Homo sapiens: one gene and its partners. The protein of the gene in region 2 purifies or fractionates together with the protein of the main gene of each other region. This does not show direct contact. Each region holds a gene or a part of one and is shown on either strand. Other genes may lie near its edges. The genes, in order: PCYOX1, DYNC2LI1 and TTC3.

Region 1 (7,111 bases), about 26 Mb from region 2:
AATTGACCCTCATAACAGGAGCAATCATTTCATTGAGGAACTTCTCAGAAAAGCCGGCCTTTTGCAAGGTTTCAAGAAGTGTTCGATTAAGCATTCCAAGGAAGTCATCTCCTCCTAGAGCATGAAGTAATTTTTCGACACTACTGAAGGCATAGTCATGAGACTGGTAGCGGTAGATCCTTTGGAAAAGAAGAGAAATCCATTAAATACCAAACAAGATGTGGGGAAGGGGATGTATAAAGAAGGGAAGTGGCGTCATAAGAATCAAACTGACATCTAGGTGCAGTGGCTCACGCCTATAATCCCCACACTTTGGGAGGCAGAGGTGGGCAGGTCACCTGAGGTCAGGAGTTCAAGACCAGCCTGGCCAACATGGCAAAACCCCAGCTTTACTAAAAATACAAAAATTAACCAGGCATAGTGGTGTATGCCTGTGGTCCCAGCTACTTGGGAGGCTGAGGCAGGAGGACTGCTTGAGCCCCGGAATTCAAGGCCGCAGTGAACTGTGATAATGCCGCTGCACTCCAGCCTGGGCCAGACAGTGACAGTGTCTCTTAAAAAAAAAAAAAGAAAAAAAAAAAGAAAAGAAACTAAGGAAGAAAGAAAGAAGAAGAAAAAGGAAAAATAAAAAGTAGAAGTAAGGCCAGGCGCGGTGGTTTCATGCCTGTAATCCTAGCTCTTTGGAAGGCCAAGGCAGGCAGATCACTAGGTCAGGAGTTTGAGACCAGCCTGACCAACATGGTGAAACCCCGTCTCTACTAAAAATACAAAAATTAGCTGGGCCTGGTGGCGCACGCCTGTAATCCCAGCTATTCAGGAGGCTGAGGCAGGAGAATCGCTTCAACCCAGAAAGCGGAGGTTGCAGTGAGCCGAGATCACACCGCTGCACTCCAGCCTGGGCAACAGAGCGAGACTCCATCTCAAAAAAAAAAAAAAAAAAAAGTAGAAGTAAAATACTTTGTCTAAAGGCCACATGGCAAGTATAAGGCTCAATCACAACTTGCCCACTCTGCTGTCAATCACCCACACATGCACAGTCTCCACTGGAGCACACCTGACCCATTCACTGGTCTCTAAATTTGCCCTACATGCTGTATCCCCACCAGTGCACAAGCTCTTCCCTCCAACCTGAATACACTTCCCATTCCTAACCATGGAACATCTATTCTTCCTTAACAGAACTTGAATCCCACCTTCTCTGAAAAGTCTTGCTCAACTTCCCAGTCCACAGTTATATCATCTCCAGAAGCCTCATAAAACTTAGCACCAATGCCACTCATTCAACAATTAGATGCTTTCTATTATTTTTTAGAAAACATCACTTGACCAAAAAGAAAAATATCACCCAACACTTCTCTGCATTTTATGGATTTAAAACAACATTCACATAAATTAGTGCATTCAGTAATTCAAACACAATTTTTCATGTTGCAAATAGTACAAAGATGGAAAACAGGCTTAAGTTTGGGATAAGTAATACGGGGTTTATCTCTTATTCCCTTAAGGGGCTTATAGTTAGGGATAAGTAATAAGGCACATGCAGAGATAAGTATATGAAAATAAGAAATTAAGAGCCAAGGAAAGATCCCTATCACTGATCATGGAAGGGAAACTTTCACATCAAGTTTTTCTCTCAAAATGTACTATATTTTTTTACAGAACAAGGGACAGTATTATAACCATTTCAGTATTACCTACTAAAAGCATAGTAGTAGTATAAGTGTACAAAATGTTAAACACATTTTTATTGGAAAAACTGATTCGATATCTATGCCAAAACTGAGAAACTAAATACCTTCTAACCATAGCATTTGGGTCCCAGTCTTTAGGAGACTGGAAAAAGTAGGATGGAAACACTGAATTCTTCAGAAAAATAATAGCCTGGATATCTCATATCCAAAGAAGAGTGATCTTTGGCTAATGGTCAACATGAGAAAATAACAGTCAATTAAATAAGCTACTAATGATGCTATAAAAAACATATTCCCCAACTGCTCCTGCCAGAGCTGCAACCTCACTCAAGCAAGTCTCCCTGGGAGGGGGCGGGGTGGCAGCGGTGAGATGAAACTATATACACAATATAAACAGAGAGCACTCTAATTGTTTCATGATACAACTAATCGTATTAGAATAAATACACTGCTGGGTATGGTGGCTCATGCCTGTAATCCTAGCACTTTGGGAGGCAAAGTGGGGCAGCATCACTTGAGGTCAGTAGTTTGAGACCGCCTGGCCAACATGGTGAAACCCCATCTCTACTAAAAATACAAAAATTATCCAGGTGTGGTGGTGCATGCCTGTAATCCCAGCTACTCAGGTGGCTGAGGCATGAGAATTGCTTGACCCAGGAGACAGAGGTTGCAGTAAGTCAAGATCACACCACTGCACTACACCCTGGATGACAGAGCAAGACTCCATCTCAAAAAAATAATAATAATAAATGAAAAAACAGAATAAATACTACTAAAAAACAGCACCCAGGTGAGGCAGCATGCACCTGTAGTCACAGCTACTCAAGAGGCTGAGGTGGGAGGATCACTTAAGCCCAGGGGCACAAGGCTGTAGTACATTATGGTTGCACCTGTGAACAGCCAGCCAATATACTCCAGCCTGGGTGACAGAGTAAGACAGGAGGATACCTTGAGGCCAGGAGTTCAAGACTAGCCTGGGCAACATAGCAAGACTCTGTCTGTACACAAAATGTAAAAATTAGCCAGGCGCAGTGGTTCATGCCTGTAATCCCAGCACTTTGGGAGGCTGAGGCGGGCAGATCGCTTGAGGTCAGGAGTTTGAGACCAGCCTGGCCAACATAGCGAAACCCCACCTCTACTAAAAATACAAAAATTAACTGGGCATGGTGGCGCATGCCTGTAATACCAGCTACTTGGGAGGTGGAGGCAGGAGAATCGCTTGAACCTGGGAGGTAGAGGTTGCAGTGAGCCGAGATCGTGCCACTGCACTCTAGCCTTGGTGACAGAGTGAAACTCCCTCTCAAAAAAAAAAAAAAAAAAATTAAAAATTAGCCAGGCTCCTATATAATAGATTGATCATGCACCATATCCACAGGAGGTTGGAAAAACCATGCCATTTTCTGGAATTTAAGGGTGTTGCATTATTTCATCAATCATTTGTTGACAAAAAAGAAAAACTAAAAAATAAATTTAAAATGTGAACCTTCAGGTATTGAGTAACACCTTTATCTTGGTATAGAACTGATACTTTTTTTTTATTTTGAAATATCTGATAATAATTTGGAATGAAGTAAGGTTCTGTTAAAGAAAATATATTTGAAGACCCTTTAAAGCAGTGAATCTGAAACAATTTTCACACCCTTAAGTGGTTGATACGTACCTATTTTTAGGTATTTTGAGGTATTTACCATAAACTAAATTTAGAAATTTTTTAGATTCACTTGAAGTAAACATTACAAACATTGGATACGGTGGGGTTTTCTTTAGATTTTACTTGAGAGAAGGTGAGTACAAAGCAATTTGCAGTTGTTGTAATGACAAGATTACTGCGCAAGTGTGAATCCAAACAGTATAGCTTTTAAATTTTAAAGCATTTGGTAAATTATCGCTGAGTTTTTTTCTGTTGCCAATAGCAAACTGCTTTTCCATTAATGGAGAATTCACGCCTTTCAAGCATTTTAAATATGACAATATTTATAAATGTATGGTTTGGAGGAATCGTTTAAATTCTCTTTCCTAATTTTCTTTCTTTTGAAGATAGATTCTTTCAACAAGTAATTTGTAGTAATGACTGTGTTGACTTCAATTTTGGAGCGCAGTAGCTATGTTAAAGATGAACTATTTGGTCTCATTGAAGCCAACACAGAACTTGCTGCTGTGTTTTTTCTTCAGTGATAAATAAAATACTTACAGAAAAAAAAAAAAAAAAAAATTAGCCAGGCATGGTGAGGCATGCCTGTAGTCCCAGCTATTCAGGAAGCTGAGGCATGAGGATCACTTCAGCCCCGCTGGTTGAGGCTGCAGTGAGCTGTGATCACACCACTGCACTCCATCCAGCTTGGGCAACAGAGTGAGACCTTGTCTTAAAAAAAACAAAAACAAAAACAAAAAAATAATAATTTTTAAAAAAATATAACTGGGGCCAGGCACAGTGGCTCACGCCTGTAATCCCAGCACTTTGGGAGGCCAAGACAGGTGGATCACCTGAGGTCAGGAGTTCGAGACCAGCCTGACCAACATGGAGAAACCCTGTCTCTACTAAAAATACAAAATTAGCCGGGCGTAGTGGTGCAGTGGCACAGTGAGCCAAGGTGAGCCGAGGAGAGCCAAGATCGTGCCACTGCACTCCAGCCTGGGCAACAGAGACAGACTCCATCTCAAAAGAAAAAAAAAAGGAGAAAATGGTCTGAAAAGAAGACTAGAAATACATGGGGTTAGGAGGGTTGAATTCTAAATAAGACTGTCCAAAAACAAGAGTGGTCAGGAAAAGCCTCACTGAGAAGATGATATAGACCAAAGACCCGAAGGAGATGAGGATGCAAACCAGGCAAACACCTGGGGGAAAATATTTCCGGTAGAGGTAAAAGCAATGCAAAGGTCACATGACAGAAGCTTGCCTGGCACATTCAAGAAACAATGAAGCCAGAGCAGCTGAAGCAGAGTGATATGGGAGAACCGGGAGTGGTACAGCCAGAAATGTTACTGGGGAGAGGAAACTTCCAGAATGGCAGAGGAAGGACCTCTGGAAATCTGCTCCTCCATAAAAGCTATGAGAATACTGCCAAAAATGATCAACATTGACTCTTTCAGAGCTCTGCAGATAAACCAAAGCCTTTCCAAGTCCAAGGAGTATTTATTCAAGAAAAATGTCTGGCAGGCATGGTGGCTCACACCTGTAATCCCAGCACTCTGGGAAGCTGAGCCAGGCGGATCACTTGAGGTCAGGAGTTCAAGACCAGCCTGCCCAACATGGTGAAACACCATCTGTACCAAAAATATAAAAAATTAGCCAGGTGTGGTGGCACACGCCTGTAATCCCAGCTATTCAGGAGGCTGAGGCAGGAGAATCGCTTGAACCCAGGAGATGGAGGTTGCAGTGAGCCAAGATCGCACCATTGCACTCCAGCCTGGGCGACAAGAGGGAGACTCCGTCGAAAGAAAGAAAGAAAGAGAAAAAGAGAGAGAGAAAAAAAAATAAAAAATAAAACCAGCACCCTTCCAACTGCAATGTGAAACTAGCAAGCTAGAAGCCACTGGAGAGAACACAACGAGTTTGTAGCTCCCAAAAAGCACTATCCTCAGAGAACTGTCAATATTTGACCTATCTGGCAGCTCCGAAAAAGCTCTATCCTGAAGGCTTGTCTTTATTCGACCTGATTCAAAGTTCACTCTATGCAACAGCCCCATCCTGAGGGCACGTGTCCACGTGTCAAAAAAAAAATCTGTGGCAATTGTTTAACATCACAGATGCCGGAGGCTATGACATCAATAGAGACTACAAGAGGCTGACCAAAAAAACTTTTTAAAAAAGGCCGGGTGCAGTGGCTCACGCCTGTAATCCCAGCACATTGGGAGGCACAGGCTGGAGGATCACTTGAGGTTAGGAGTTCGAGACCAGCCTGGCCATCATGGCGAAAACCCATCTCTACTAAAAACACAAAAAATTAGCCAGGGTTGGTGGTGCATGCCTGTAGTCCCACCTACTCAGGAGGCTGAGGCACAAGAATTGCTTGAACCCGGGAGGCAGAGGTTGCAGTGAGCCGAGATAGCGCCACTGAACTCCAGCCTGGGCAACAGAGCGAGACTCTGTCTCAAAAAAAAAAAAAAAAAAATTAGCTGGGCATGGTAGTGCACATCTGTAGTCCCAGCCACTCAAGGGGCCTGAGGTTGGAGAATTGCTTGAGCCTGGGAGGCAGAGGTTGCTGTGAACATACTACACTCTAGCCTGGGCAACAGAGTAAAACATCATCTGAAAAAAAAAAAAAAACAGACACACAGATCCTTGAAACAAATAAGAAAACCCAGAAATAAACCTTCATGAATATGATCAAATGATCTTGACAGAACTGAAATACATAGTTCAACAATAATGGAGACTTCAATATCCCATTTTCAATAATGGACAGTTACTGAAAATGACAACAGTGTATTAGTTCACCAAGACTGCCATAACACAGTACCAAAGACTGGATGGCTTAAACAAAAAAAGTTTTATTTCTTATAGTTCTGTAGGCCAAAAGTCCAAGATCAAGGTGTGGATGCATTCGGTTTCTTCTGAGGCCTATTTCCTTGGCTTGCAGATGGCCACCTTCTTGCTGTGTCCTCACATGGTCTTTGTGTGTTTCTTCTGTGTCCCAATTTTTTTTTTTTTTTTTCTGAGACAGAGTTTCACGCTTGTTGCCCAGGCTGGAGTGCAATGGCTCACTGCAACCTCTGCCGCCCAGGTTCAAGTGATTCTCTTGCCTCAGCCTTCCTGAGTAGCTGGGATTACAAGCATGCACCACCACGCCCAGCTAATTTTTTGTATTTTTAGTAGAGAAGGGGTTTCACCATGTTGGTCAGGCTGGTCTCGAACTCCCAACCTCAGGTGATCTGCCCGCCTTGGCCTCCTTTCTGTGTCCTAATCTTAAGGACACCCATCAAATTGTTTTAGGGTCTACGCTAAAGACCTCATTTTAACTTAATCACATATTTAAAGGCCCTACATACATATGCAGTCACATTCTGAGTACTGGGTGGCTAGTGTTTCAACCTATGAATTTTGGGGAAAACAAATTTAAAAGTAAGGGATGAGAGCACAGAATCCTGTCATGTCTTCTCAGTCACAAAACAGATTTTGGCTATAAATCTCTATTAATGAAATAGCCACTGAAGGTTTCTGAGTTAGTGGAGTGATGTGATGAGCCTTAGATTTTAAAGAACTACTTTGGCTGCTAACCTGAGAACAAATGGTAGCAATATAACAGTAATGGCAGATGATTTAGGAGGTGTCTTGGTTTTCCACTGCTGCTATAACAAATTACCACAAACTTAGTGGCTTAAAACAACACAAATTTACGGCCGGGTGCAGTGGCTCACACCTGTAATCCCAGCACTTTGGGAGGCTGAGGCGGGTGGATCACGAGGTCAGGAGTGCAAGA
Region 2 (7,111 bases):
TTGACCTCCTGAGCTCATGTGATCCTCCCACCTCAGCCTCCCAAGTAGCTGAGACAACTGGTGTGTGCCACCATGGCCAGCTAATTTTTAAAATTTTTTGTAGAGACAGGTTCTCACCATGTTGCCCAGGCTGGTCTGAAACTCCTGAGCTCAAATGATCCTCTCGCCTTAGCCTCCCAAAGTGTTAGGACTACAGGTGTGAGCCACTGCACCCAGCTGGAAATTTTTTAAATAAAAATGTTTTGGCCAGGCATGGTGGCTCACGCTTGTAATCCCAGCAGTTTGGGAGGCCGAGGAGGGTCGATCATGAGGTCAGGAGTTCAAGACCAGCCTGGCCAACATAGTGAAACCCCATCTCTATTAAAAATACAAAAATTAGCCAGGTGTGGTGGCACGTGCCTGTAGTCCCAGCTACTCAGGAGGCTGAGGCAGGAGAATCACTTGAACCCAGGAGATAGAGGTTGCAGTGAGCCGAGACCATGCTATTATACTCCAGCCTGGGTGACGGAGTGAGACTGTCTCAAAAAAAAAAAAAAAAAAAAAAAAGTTGTTATATTTTATTGCATTAAAGGACATTTAGTAAAGTTTAGTCCTGCTATGGGAGATAATGATAACAGTGATATAATAACCAACATTTATTGAGTAATATTCTGTTCTAGGCCCTGTGCTAAGCATTTCACATGTACTCCCTCTTTGAATCCTCACAACAACCCTATGAAGAAGGTACTGTTTTTCTCCATTTTACCCTGGAGGACAATGAGGCTTAAGTGAAATTAAGTGACTTGCCGAAGATCACACGTCTAATAAATGGTCACTCTGAGATTCGAACCCAGGGAGCATGACTTCAGATTTCATGTTTTTAACTTTTACAACAAACAGCACTTTTTTAAAGAGCCCCCATCCCCAATACACACACTGATAGAGTTGATTTTTGTTTTTCTTTTAGGGGAATATAGATTCTAATTCTTAAGGGGATACCAAAAATGAATAAATAGATCATCAACTTATCTCTTTAAACTTGGTTGGGATTTATGGATATAAGCAATTTAGAACTTTTGTTCCAAAGAAGGGGGAGACCATCTAGCAGTGCATGTTCAACAGATGCATTATCAAACACTCTGTAAGGAGAGGTCTTCAGCAGTGGGAAAGCAACGGGACCATGTGCATTAGCAAAAGCATTTATTCCTCGTAGCTGTGCATCAAGTTGCTGATTTCCCCAAATTTGGTACTGTCCATTCAAGCCCAAAGGACAAGAAATGTACAAACCATTAATGATGCTCCATAATAATGTGCAACAAATCGAAGTGTCTTGCATATTACCTTTCTCTTCTCAGACTCAAAATCCTGTAGAAATATGTTATTTTAAAAAGTCAAGATAACCAAATATCTATAGCAGGAAGATTCAAATTATTAAATGTAGAATAGATTATTTCTTATTTTTTTAAACTCACTTTCAGGAATAGGATTCCATTACCTTGATATTTATTTCATAGAGAGTTGAACAATAGCTGCAGCCTTCTTAGAACTACAGCTAACAGATCTTTCTTTGTTTAAATACTTAGCTCAATAGAATTTAGATATAAGCACACATTTCATAGTGTGGAATTCTAACGATTCTCTGACAAGCAAAGATAAGAAGGAACTAATTTTCTACTTTCTTCCATTTAAAAGTTGGGAAGTAAGTCATATTCCCCAGTGACTGGGTTGAAGACTTTTTTTTTTTTTTTTGAGACAAGTGTCTCACTGTGTAACCCAGGCTGGAGTATAGTGGTGTGATTACAGCTCACTGTAACCTCAAATTCCTGGGCTCAATTGATCCTCCCCCTTCAGCCTCCCAAAGTGCTGGGACTACTGGCATAAGCCACTGTGCCCGGCAAGATTCATTTTCTAAATCTGCCTTATCCCCATTCTAATCACTGCATTTATTTTCTTTACCTATTTTTTTCTGTCCCAACTATGTCTTTTCCAAAATCTTTAAGATGCATGACTTAACCGATTCCTTCAATAATTATTTTTCTTATTTTGATATTATTTTTGTACCTCCCTCATAAAAAGCACAGCCATATATGTACAACAAACTCAGCTAGAAGCGGAAGAGCTTACCTGAAAAACATCATATTTACTTCCAATTATGACCAGAGGTACCGGAAATGGGTCAATTAATTCATGATCCTGCTAATAAACATATTTCCTTGAGTTGTTGTAATTCTTTATTGCTAGGTGCTTAGCAATTTCTATTTACTTCCAAAAACATTCCATTTTCAGTCTCTTCATAGATGTTTACTTAATTTGCTTGACATAGAATTTGTTCTAATATTTAACTTTCACTTCCTAAGCTATATTTCATAAGTGTAAAACTAGAAATGGCAATTCCCTAAATTACTATGATATTTATTATTTTCCTTTTTCTACCCTTTTATTTCCTTATATAACATATTACCTTCCTGGTTTTTTTTTATTCTATTTTATGTTGACTGTTGGAACAGCATTTATCCAGCATAGATTTGTTTTGTTCCATTATTTCCTATGAAAAACACTTCCTCTCTTTTTTTTTCTTTTGAGGCAGAGTCTCCCTCTGGAGTCAGGCTGGAGTGTAGTGGCGCGATCTCGGCTCACTGCAACCTCCACTTCCCAGGTTCAAGCGATTCTCCTGCCTCAGCCTCCCAAGTAGCTGGGACTACAGGCATGTACCACCACACCCAGCTAATTTTAGTATCTTAAGTAGAGACGGGGTTTCACCATGTCGGCCAGGATGGTCTTGATCTCTTGACGTCGTGATCCGCCCGCCTCGGCCACCCAAAGTGCTGGGATTACAAGCATGAGCCATCGCACCCTGCTACACTTTCTTATAAACTCTGGATAATATAAAATGCTGCTCTCAGTTTTCCAGATGATGATATTTATTATTGTATTTGAAGAACTTGTGTTACCATCATAGCAACTTTATAATTTAATTAGCTGTCAGATGATAAAAAGATACTGAATAAGTGACAGAAACGAAATGAATGTAAAATACAGAGTGATGGTGAAGGCTATTACAACTCTACCCCTTGCTTAAAGTTGTAGCTTCATCTAGTCTTTGTCAGGTGACTTTTGTACAATCTGGCTTTTTATCTTCATTTTTACAGAGATTATAAAATCAATATCAAACCACTACTTTAAAACTCTATTTCTCTGATTGGTGTAATATGCCATAACAATCACAGAAGATGTCTAACAAGAAGATATAAGGAATCTTCTTCCTTGTTTTGCTCTTACTGAGGTTTTAATAAATTGCTGTAATTTTCCAGTGAACAGGTTCATCTACATCAAATGAATTTCAAGTCATGCATAAAAATCTAAAGAAGTTGTTTGTGATGTTATCATTAACTATAAATGGGACTAAGGATTCCAGTAATAATCCCAAACAGCAACTCACAGGATGATCCTTCGGCATATTATTCCAGATCTTCTGTCTCATTTCAGAAACTGCTTTAGCATTTGTCTTTCCCAGTTTCATTATCACTTTGTCTACATGGCTTTTTGTGGCTTGCAAGAGATTTTCCATGGTGGGCCAGAGATCATTAGGTTTTGAAAGATCCAGAACGAGAACAAGAGAAAACGTCCTAAAGAAATAAAAACACTTTTCAAAAAAGACTCAAAATAATTACCATTTTGAAATCCTAATGTACTGAAATTTATCTAAGAATAACTAAAATATACCTTAAGGGGAAAAAAAAACCGTAGCATTATTCTAAGACTCCCAAAAACAAAAAACCAAAGTCATAGCCTTATTTATTCCAATACTTTCCTCTAGTAATATTTAAGTGTTACAATAGTGGAACTAAGTTTCTGTTTGAACTAAAATTAAAAGTAGTTTAGTTCAAATAGAGAAGCTCCAAGCATTTGCATCGACAATGCCACGTTTACATCCAGTTTTACTGTGTGCTCCAAAAAAGGGAAGCAAAAATAATAAAAGAAGCAAAAACAGTAACACAATAATCAGGTAAAGGAGAAGAAAATAGATATATGGGTGGACCTTGCTAGGGAACTACCTAGTTAATCTCCACAATAACCCTCTCCAGAAGATGTTATAATGTCCATTTTATAGATTAGAAGTCTGAGGCACAGATTTATATAATTAGTAAATTGTAGAACTGGTATTTAGATCCAAAGTTACACGTTTTTCTGCAATACCATTCTGTCTCTCTGAAAGCACACTCCTGACCACCAGATACATGACCACCATCACCACATGCACTTGTATTCTGTTCATGCCCATCAAACATAAACCTAGACTCGGCAACAAAAACAAACATTCCTGTTCAAAAATGGGCAAAGAGGCCAGGGATGGTGGCTCATGTCTGTAATTCTAGAGCTTTGGGAAGCTGAGGCAGGAGGATCACTTGAGGCCAGGAGTTCAAGACCAGCCTGGGCAACATAGTGAGACCCCAACTCAACTATATTAAAAAAAAAAAAAAAGAAGGCAAAAGACTCAAATAGACATTTCGCCAAAGAAGATATACAGATGGCCAATTAACACATGAAAAGATGTCCAACTTCCTATCCATTAGGCTAGCTATTGTCAAAACATTTTTTTGTTGTTGTTTTTGGAGGAGGAGTCTCTATTGTCCAGGCTGGAGTACAGTGGCATGATCTCAGCTCACTGCAACCTCTGCCTCCCGGGTTCAAGCCATTCTCCTGCCTCAGCCTCCCAAGTAGCTGGGATCACAGGCATGCACCACCACATCCGGCTAATTTTTGTATTTTTAGTAGAGACGAGGTTTCACCATGTTGCCCAGGCTGGTCTCGAACTCCTGACCTCAGGTGATCTACCCACCTCAGCCTCCCAAAGTGTTGGGATTACAGGTGTAAGCCACCACTCCTGGCCTAAAACATTTTTTTAAATGAGAAGATAACAAGTATTAGTGAGGATACAGAGAAATTAGAACCCCTGTACATTGCTTATGGGAATGTAAAATGGTGCAGCCACTGTGTAAAATAGTATAGTGATTCCTCAAAAAATTCACCATAGAATTACCAGATGATCCAGCAATTCCACTTCTGAGTCTAAACCCAAAAGAACTGAAGGAAGAGATTTAAACAGATAATGTACACCAATGTTCATACCAGCATTACTCACAATAGTCAAAAGATGAAAACAACCCAAATGTTCTGCATGGATTAACGGATAACTGAACTGTGGTATTTGTTTACACAATGGAACATTATTTAGCCTTAGAAGTGAGGGAAATCCTGACACATACTACAAACGGAAGAACCCTGAAGACGTTATGCTAAATGAAATAAATAACAAAAGGACAAATAATGAATGATTTCATTTATATGAGGTACTGGAGTGGTCAAATTCATAGAGACAGGCAGTAGGGATGATAGTTGCCAGGAGCTGGGGAAGGAAAAACAAGGAGTTATTGTTTAATAGGTAAAGAGTTTCAGTTTGAGAAGATCAAAAAGTTCTGGAGATGTATGGTGATGAGAATATACTTGATGTTACTGAACTGCACAGTTAAAAATGACTAAAATTTTACGCTATGTATATTTTACGACAATAAAAACTAAACATTTGTAAATCTAGGAGTATTTTTAAAAATGGTTATAATAAGTATGTAGAACCATAATCCTTGATGGTTTAGGATTATATCCAATATAACCAATATATCCTTGATCAACACAGCAAACATTCTGCTAGAAGACATAGCACAAAATTATAATATGTTATTTAATTATTTTGTTTAGTTCAAGTAAACAGGCTATTTTGTATAATTCAAGCAAAACAGTAACAATTCTGTTGGTCTAAATTCAGAAAGTAGTCTTTTACACATTAATTATCAAATTTTCTAAAAATTATTGTGCTATTACATTGTCTAGGCAATTATATTTATGTCATTTTAATAAGCTCATAAGCAGTTTTGCTTAAGTGTAAAAATAGTATATACATTTTTAATTGTACTAATTTCATTTTCAGGGTTTTGGTATGGTTGTGTTTCAACTATGATTTAACATTTTTTCATTGTGATGAAATGGATATAACATAAAATTTATTATTTTTTCAAATGAAAAATTATTCTAAGCAAAAGAAAAATAAATTACTCAAATTTTTTCTAAGATTAAAATTTTTGTTTACAGTATATTAGAAATACTTTTGTTACTTTTTACCTATTTCATAGCAAATGATAGCCAAAAAATTTTTTTACATAAACTCCTAAAACAGAGATTCAGACTACAGGAAATGTTCTATTACAAATTGTCTAAAGTGTGTGGAAATGTTCAATGCATTTATAATTCTATAAACAGTTATTTCAAAGATAAACAGTATCTAACAGTATTTGGCAATATTGTTTTCTCAAGTTGTGAGACTTCATCCAACACAAGGAAATTATGTGTCAAACTAATTCCAGTCAAAAACAGTTTGAGTGTTTTTGACATGGTGAATGAAATGTTTTTCCATGAATTATTTAACCACCCAGCAACCTACTTTAGACCCAAGCCTATGGCTCCCTTTCCCTTTCCCTCTGTTGATCATAACCCTGACCCTTCCTCTCTCCTAAAGCAGGTCCCAGCTGTCATGGGGCTCCAGGGAAAGGAAGCCCAAGACCTCACAAATGAGGTATTAACCCTTGGGATGATCTGGCTTCCTGCAGAACCTAGAATTTCCACAACCCCAGCAGGCCAAAACCTTTTGGGCTTCAAGAAGGGGAGTGAGGTAATAAAACAAGTCAGTTGAATAGGAGGCGACTCCCAACCCAGGTAAGAGCCACCTCCTGTATTTTCACCCTTTCAGCCTCTGGCCACTGTAACTGGAAGCTCCTCCCACCCTATCTCTCTCTCTCTCTTTTTTAAAGAGACAATGTCTCACTCTGTCACTCAGGCTGGAGTACAGTGGTATGATCATAGCTTACTGCAGCCTTGAACTCCCTGGCTCACGCAATCCTCCTGCCTCAGCCACCTGTGTAGCTGGTACTACAGAGGCTTGCTATGATGCCTGGCTAATTTTATTTTTTAATTTTTTTGTAGAGATGGGGTCTCACTATGTTGCCCAGGCTGGTCTTGAACTCCAGACCTCAAGTGATCCACTGGCTCTGGCCTCTCAAAGTGCTGAGATTACAGGCCT
Region 3 (7,111 bases), on a different chromosome or scaffold from region 2:
AGGCGGCTAATTTGGGCTCCACTTCTTTAAGCTCACTCAAAACATGCAGAAATATTCTTGTCTTTACTCTGTTATTTTCTTGAATCAAGTGGCGAATAACATAGTCCACTGCTTCATTTAGAAAATTTCTGCTAGAAAAACAGGTTGTATAGTCTTCTGTGCTCAAAACTTTCCAAGAAAGCAATTCTTTGAGAAGCATGGCTGTATTCTGTATGCCGGATTTAATCTTGTCAGCATACTGCTTTATACACTGTAGAATTCTGTCATCAAGGAACTGACAACGCTGAACATTGTCTACAGTTTCTAAGGATAAATAACAATGGTTAAAGTGATAAATAGGACTAATTCACAATTACATAAACTTAGAAATAACAAAATTACATAATATAAAATATGATTCAGATTGATTATACTGTTTTACTAAACTCAAGAAACTTTAATTAGAAATATAAACACTTAACAATACTTTTGAAAAGACATGAAAGTGTACGCTAAAATAAACATACCAAAAGTAAGCATTTTACACCCTTCATTCTGAACCATTCATGTAGTAGCATTTGAAACTTAGTTCCTCTAGGCCAGGCGTGGTGGCTCATGCCTGTAATCCCAGCACTTTGGGAGGCCGAGGAGGGTGGATCAGGAGATCGAGACCATCCTGGCTAACACGGTGAAACCCCATCTCTACTAAAAATACAAAAAATTAGCTGGGCATGGTGGCGGGCACCTGTAGTTCCAGCTACTGGGGAGGCTGAGGCAGGAGAATGGCGTGAACCCGGGAGGCGGAGCTTGCAGTGAGCCGAGATCGCGCCACTGCACTCCAGCCTGGGCAACAGAGTGAGACTCCGTCTCAAAAAAAAAAAACAAAAAAAAAAAACAACTTAGTTCCCCTAAAATACGGCCACTTCCTTCAACAATCCTAACCCAGCCTCATCAACTACCTTAACTTTATATACAATAAATATGTTTAGTCATTAAGCACAGAAAGTTAAAATACAATCTCTGAAAGGTTTTTCAGTGGGAATACAATCTCTGAAAGGTTTTTCAGTGTTCTTTACACCAACCCAATTCTGTCTTCGAGTAACAGAAGACAGTGATAGTATTAAATTACTAAGTGAAATCTTTATTTCAATTCAATAATGATGAATATAAGGCCCAAAAGATGCTTACATTTATACATTTAAATGAGAGTATATTATTCTTATCATGCCTTTGGCTTCTGCATACCTTTCTGCTCTTCATTTTTGGGTGGATTACTTTCTCTTAAGTCCTCCTCCATTCTTTCTTGTGCTAACTTTTTTGCTTCTTTTTTTTGGATCTTTCTCTTCAATTTTTTGTCTTCTTTCAGTCTTAGTTTCTCTAGGCTGATAAACATTTACAATTAGTGACAACTCAATGAACTGTTTTCCTTTGACTATCGTAGAAACCATCTTCCAAGCAATATATTAGAAGTTTTCCTTTTTTAATCAGAGCCCGGCCTACATCTTCCATTCAATGTAAGAAACTGTCAGTATTGTCAAAATAAGGGTACTTGTTTCATGAAAACAAAAACCTCAATGATTAGGTGATGTCTAAGGATGCAGTCTACAGATTGTATAGATGTCACTTTCATGTATCTAAGTTACTTCATAGGGTAAACAGAAATAGTACAAATTACTCTGCAAAATAATTCATGTAAACTCTCATTTCTAAGAAAGGTCCCATAGTAAAATATAATTTTCACATCTCAATAATAACCCACAACACTATAATTTGGTTGATCTGGTTACAATGAATTCTCTCCAACAAATAATTCTGTTCATCTTTTCTTTTGCTTTTTCTTGGTCACAAATGATAAAAAAAAATCACTTCTTAGAAAGAAAAACAAGAAGCAGGACCAAAAAGAAAAGAAAAAAGAATCTGAATTATTTGATCTAAACAAAAAGCTATAGAGAAGTAATAATTTAGACAGTACATTGAGTATTTCAGGGTAAAAAATAGTCATAGGTTCAAAATGTTTACTGAAGAGAGATAAAAAGAAAAATATGCTTTTGGAATTAAAGTTTCAACAACTGAGAGCAAACTGTATAGTTTTTATATAAATGCCAAATCTATTAATCAAACATGTAATTTCACAGCATCAAATGTTATAATTTTAATTGTAAATTCAACCACTAGATAAATAATTCTGAATCAAGTTTTTAGTATTTAATCATTCTAGGCTAGTTCTCTTTAAGTTTTAATTTTCCATAAAAATCATTTTAAAAAACACTTATTTGAATATATGTATACACAGCCAATTTTTAAAAAGGCATAATTTAGAAATCTGCATTTAATAGAATTATATTCTAAGAGACATCATCAAACCACTGATTGATTGTTAAAAATCTTACCTAGAACATTTCTGTTTCAGAATAGGTCTTGGAGGAACCTTTTCTTTTATGACCTTGTGTTCAAACTTTAAATAAAACAAAGACATCCAAAATTTGTCTCATACTCCCATGACATAAAACACAAAACCACAAGTAACAAGTATTTCAGAAGCACACATAATGTTCAGTTTGATAGAGAACAGTGATGATGTTCTGACCCAGACAAAAGCCCAGAAAGCTTTAGCAAAATAATTTACTGAAGAGGAACAAGAGGGTAGACACACTTGAGGAAAAAGTTTTTAAAAAATTAAGAGTAAGCAGACGATCTAATAAAGTGTAAATATTATTACAACTACCCACTCTTGCCATTCCCATGTCATGAAGTTAAAGGTAATCCCTCAAGACGCTCTTCCCCCTCCCTAAAAACCTGCACACCCACTACTGCCCAAAAGTTTACCGGGATTAAGAAAATGAAGTTATCAAAAACAGTAAAAATAGTAAAACTAAGATATAAAAAGCCTCCTTTTCCTATTAAGAAATAAAAGAATATAAGAATGCTTTCATTACAATGAAGCATTCTCACATCCCAGTATTTCCTATATTTTCTTAAATGAAGTAATTGTTTCTTTCCTGGAAAAGATCCAAATTACATGATATCTACAAATTCAAATCATGTTTCAAAAGGTGTAAACATTTTGGTTATCTATCTAACAAGGTTTCCCCTTTATTACTTACTTCACATTTAACTTCACCACCACTGCTGAAGATGATAATCTTAGAAATGACACCTTCACAGTCAGGGGTAAGACATATTCCTTGTAGAAAATCCTATTTGATTAAAAAAAAAAAAAACAAGAAAAATGTTATGTCTAGGGGGGATAAATCTATACACGTATACTATTTTTACCACTAGGAACAGTCAAAATACGGACTAAAACCATCTTCAGGCAAGTGGTGAAAATCCTTACTCACTGCCATGCGAATTTTAAGGCTTCCGTGTAGGAAAAATATACTTTCAGGTGTGGGTCTGACCATGTGACTTGTTTTCATCAATGCAAAGTGACCAGACATGACATACACATGTCTAGACAAAAGGTTTAACAAACACTTCATAGACTGGACATTGTTCTTTTTCCTCTGACACAGGAAGATGTTCCAGAAAAGGGTCATTCTTCAACTTAGATTGAGAAACAAGGAATAGAGCCACACAAAATAAAGCTGCTACAGCCCAGTCCCAGCCAACAACTGCAGAACTGCAGGACAAGTCATGTAAGCAAAAAACAAACTTCTCTGATGTATGCCACAAGATATTTGGGTTGCATCACTTCAGCATATCCTAGGGAAAGCTGACTAATTTACAGAGTGTATTTAAAATGATGGGAATAGTTAAGACCACTAAAAGAGGGTATATCACTAGAGAAACTCAATTTAGGTAAGACAAAGACATAGCAGAAGTGACTCAAAGGTGACAGTTATTTACTCATATCATTATATTGTTAATTAATTATGTGAAAATGTACAAAATGTGAGAATTTATTTCTACCATACTTTAATAATTGCTATTGTTAACAGATGCCTAGTACAACTGCCTCATTCTTTCCCCAATAAGAACAGTGGTCTGCATAAGCCTAAGAAGTGTAGGAAAAGGTCCATAGTTTCTATAGATCAGAAACAAATTCTATGAATACAAATAAGATTGTAATACTATGACTTCCCTCAAAGTATGTCTACTTAATGGTAATTAACATCATTATCTTGGTAATAAGAAAATCCCTGGAGAGAAATGGCAGTTTAAAATTGAAGTTGATCTTTCTTCCCAACATTAAAAAAATTGTTTTGAGTTGACTTCTTAGTACAAATTACCTCATCAAATTTTGGTTTTGAAATCCCTAATTCCACATCAAAACTTTCAAGTGGGGCCTGGTGCAGTGGCTCATGCCTATAATCCCAGCACTTTGGGAGGCTGAAGTAGGATCACTTGGGTCAAGGAGTCTGAGGCTGCAGTGAGCTACGACTGCACCACTGCACTCTAGCCTGGGCAACACAGTGAGATCCGTCTCTTTAAAAAAACAAAGCCTCTATGGTTAATGCCTTTATGATTGTCCAAATAAAAACAAATTTGATTTTCCACTTTATTATTAAAGTTATAATTTAAAATTTTCTAATTATGTGCAGAATGTTCAGGAAGGAATTCTTGGGGGAAAAATTGACATACAATAAGTATACTGAAAAATTCAGACAATCCTGTTATGCTTTACCTTGTCAATTTTATCATTAAAGGTTGTAGTTTTTAACTTCTTCCAGCAATTCATGTGAAATTCTATTTTACAGTACTGGCAACAGCTGATGCGTATAAAACCCTAGGGTTACAAAAAATTTTTTAATTAACGTTTTAAAGATGTCTCTGCACACTCACTCACTACAACATACATAAAGACAGAGAGAGCTTGACTAACATATTTATTTCCACAGCATAAAGTTGCATCATTCTTCAAAATATATCAAATATTTTATAAACATTATTTCATCTGATTTACTAACCAGGGACATTGGAACAGCAGGACAAGGGCAGCTACTAGCTTCTTGAATAAACCAGTATAACTCAATTAAGTGCCAGACTTATCTCAAATTTAGGTCTCTAACAGCTAATTCAATGATCACAATGACCTTTAGATTTGGGACTCAAATTTTATGAGAGATCAGAATTGCAACAAATCAGAGGTAACAATCTCACTTTGTTTCCTATCCTCCTAAGGTAGCTTGAAGAGGAAAAAGAATGAGCCAGCCTGCCTTCTCAGGTCACTACCCCAGCCCAGAGCGTTTATACATCAGTGGCTCTGGTTCCCATGTGAGACGATGTAGACCTAAAAAAGTCCAGGAAGGCTGGGCGTGGTGGTTCATACCTGTAATCCCACACTTTGGGAGGCTGAGGGGGTGGATCACGAAGTCAAGAGATCGAGACCATCCTGGCCAATATGGTGAAACCCTGTCTCTACTAAAAATGCAAAAATTAGCTGGGCGTGCTGGGACACGCCTGTAATCCCAGCTACTTGGGAGGCTGAGGCAGGAGAATTGCTTGAACCCAGGAGGCGGAGGTTGCAGTGAGCCAAGATCGTGCCACTGCACTCCAGCCTGGGTGACAGAGTGAGACTTATCTCAAAAAAAAAAAAAAAATCCTGGGAAAGGGGTGGACGACTGCTAACTAGCCAGAGAACTTGGGTGCCTCCAATTACAGATTGTTTTGAGCCCATTTTAAGAAATGATTTTGCAAGTTAATGTCCCACTGTACACTCATTATTTACCTTAAAGTCTGGATCAGTTATGTATATCTGGATCTTAGAATATCCATGGCACTTCTGATAGCAACAAATGGCATCTGGCACTGGAGGGAACTTGCATTCTTCAACAAATTTCTCTAACAGCATCTAAAACAAAATAAACAAAAATGATACCATTACAATACTAATCTGTCAATAAAAATGCTTGTGATTTCAATAACCTCTTGCCATCAAAATATTTTCAGCATAAGAATGACTAAATTTTTTCACCAACAACAAACTACATACAACTTTTAAAGTTTTTCCTTTTAAAAGGAAGGCTGATAAGAGACATAAGAGAGATTTAAAAAGAGGACTGGACAAAATTTTTTTTCAGAATTTCGAAAGAATCAAAATTTTGTCCTGTTACAATCATCAAATCGCATTTTATAATTTACAGCTCTCAGAAATCTTCCATAAGCATTAAGAGGAAGTCAAGTAAGGCAGAATAACCCTTAGGGTAATCCTGAGGACTTTACCAGGCTCCTCTTGCCCAACATCACCTCATCCAGAATCCTAACACTCCCATTATCTTCCTCCTTGCAGCTCTGCCACTGTTGTTTGTGGACTCCCTGGAGAATTATTCCACTGCTAATGAAGCCCCCAAGAGACTCATGCCATGCTTCCAGTGCTGGCTTTTTGTTATCAATAGCTCCTATGCCTCTATCCCAATCTTGTATGAAGAGAGGTAAATCCAAGAATCCCTGTGTTGTATTTTTTATAATAGCTTTGTTGAGACATAATTTACACACTATACAACTCAAATGAAGTGTACGGTTCGGTGTTCTTAGCATATTCACAGGATGTGCTGACATCACCACGGTCTAAATTTAGAACATTTTCAAAAAGAAACTCCATACGCATTAGCAGTCCCTCCTCATTTTCCCCTAACCTTCCAGGCCCAGCAATCACTGGTCTACTTTCTGTCACTATATACAGACTTGCTTATTCTGGAGATTTCATAGGAATGGACTCACACAAGCCCTTTGTGTTTGGCTTCTTTTACTTAGCATAATGTTTCCAAGGTCCATCCATGCTGCAGCATGTTATCAGTACTCTTTTTTTTTTTTGAGACAGCGTCTCACTCTGTCACTCAGGCTGGAGTGCAGTGGCACGATCTCAGCTCACTGCAACCTCTGCCTCCTGGGCTCAACTGACCCTTCCACCTCAGCCTCCTGAGTAGCTGGGACTACAGGCATGTGCCACTATGTTTGGCTAATTTTTGTATTGATGGGTTTCGCCATGTTGCCCAGGCTGGTCTTGAACTCCTGAGCTCAAGCAATCCTCCTGCCTTGGCCTCCCAAAGTGGTAGGATTACAGGCGTAAGCCACCAAGACTGGCCATTTGTTTTTGAGGCAGACTCTCACTCTGTTGCCCAGGCTGCACTGCAGTGGCACAATCAAGGCTCACTGCAGCCTCAACCTCCCAGGTTCCAATACTTACGTA

The links.
Region 1: the proteins of DYNC2LI1 (region 2) and PCYOX1 purify together in Homo sapiens (affinity purification with mass spectrometry; 2 studies listed by BioGRID and IntAct, with this or other methods). This does not show direct contact.
Region 3: the proteins of DYNC2LI1 (region 2) and TTC3 purify together in Homo sapiens (affinity purification with mass spectrometry; 2 studies listed by BioGRID and IntAct, with this or other methods). This does not show direct contact.

What each region holds. Positions count from the first base shown.
Region 1 is NC_000002.12:70,268,027-70,275,137, reverse strand, and holds part of PCYOX1 (prenylcysteine oxidase 1 precursor), read right to left. Parts: intron 180-7,111; coding exon 1-179. UniProt on the Homo sapiens protein: Prenylcysteine oxidase that cleaves the thioether bond of prenyl-L-cysteines, such as farnesylcysteine and geranylgeranylcysteine. Only active against free prenylcysteines and not prenylcysteine residues within prenylated proteins or peptides.
Region 2 is NC_000002.12:43,790,951-43,798,061, reverse strand, and holds part of DYNC2LI1 (cytoplasmic dynein 2 light intermediate chain 1), read right to left. Parts: intron 3,606-7,111; coding exon 3,419-3,605; coding exon of another isoform or gene 3,320-3,418; exon of another isoform or gene 2,883-3,319; intron 2,176-2,882; coding exon of another isoform or gene 2,173-2,175; coding exon 2,104-2,172; intron 1,345-2,103; coding exon 1,267-1,344; intron 1-1,266. UniProt on the Homo sapiens protein: Acts as one of several non-catalytic accessory components of the cytoplasmic dynein 2 complex (dynein-2 complex), a motor protein complex that drives the movement of cargos along microtubules within cilia and flagella in concert with the intraflagellar transport (IFT) system, facilitating the assembly of these organelles.
Region 3 is NC_000021.9:37,146,143-37,153,253, reverse strand, and holds part of TTC3 (E3 ubiquitin-protein ligase TTC3), read right to left. Parts: intron 5,774-7,111; coding exon 5,651-5,773; intron 4,709-5,650; coding exon 4,607-4,708; intron 3,177-4,606; coding exon 3,084-3,176; intron 2,435-3,083; coding exon 2,370-2,434; intron 1,362-2,369; coding exon 1,225-1,361; intron 304-1,224; coding exon 1-303. UniProt on the Homo sapiens protein: E3 ubiquitin-protein ligase which catalyzes the formation of 'Lys-48'-polyubiquitin chains. Mediates the ubiquitination and subsequent degradation of phosphorylated Akt (AKT1, AKT2 and AKT3) in the nucleus.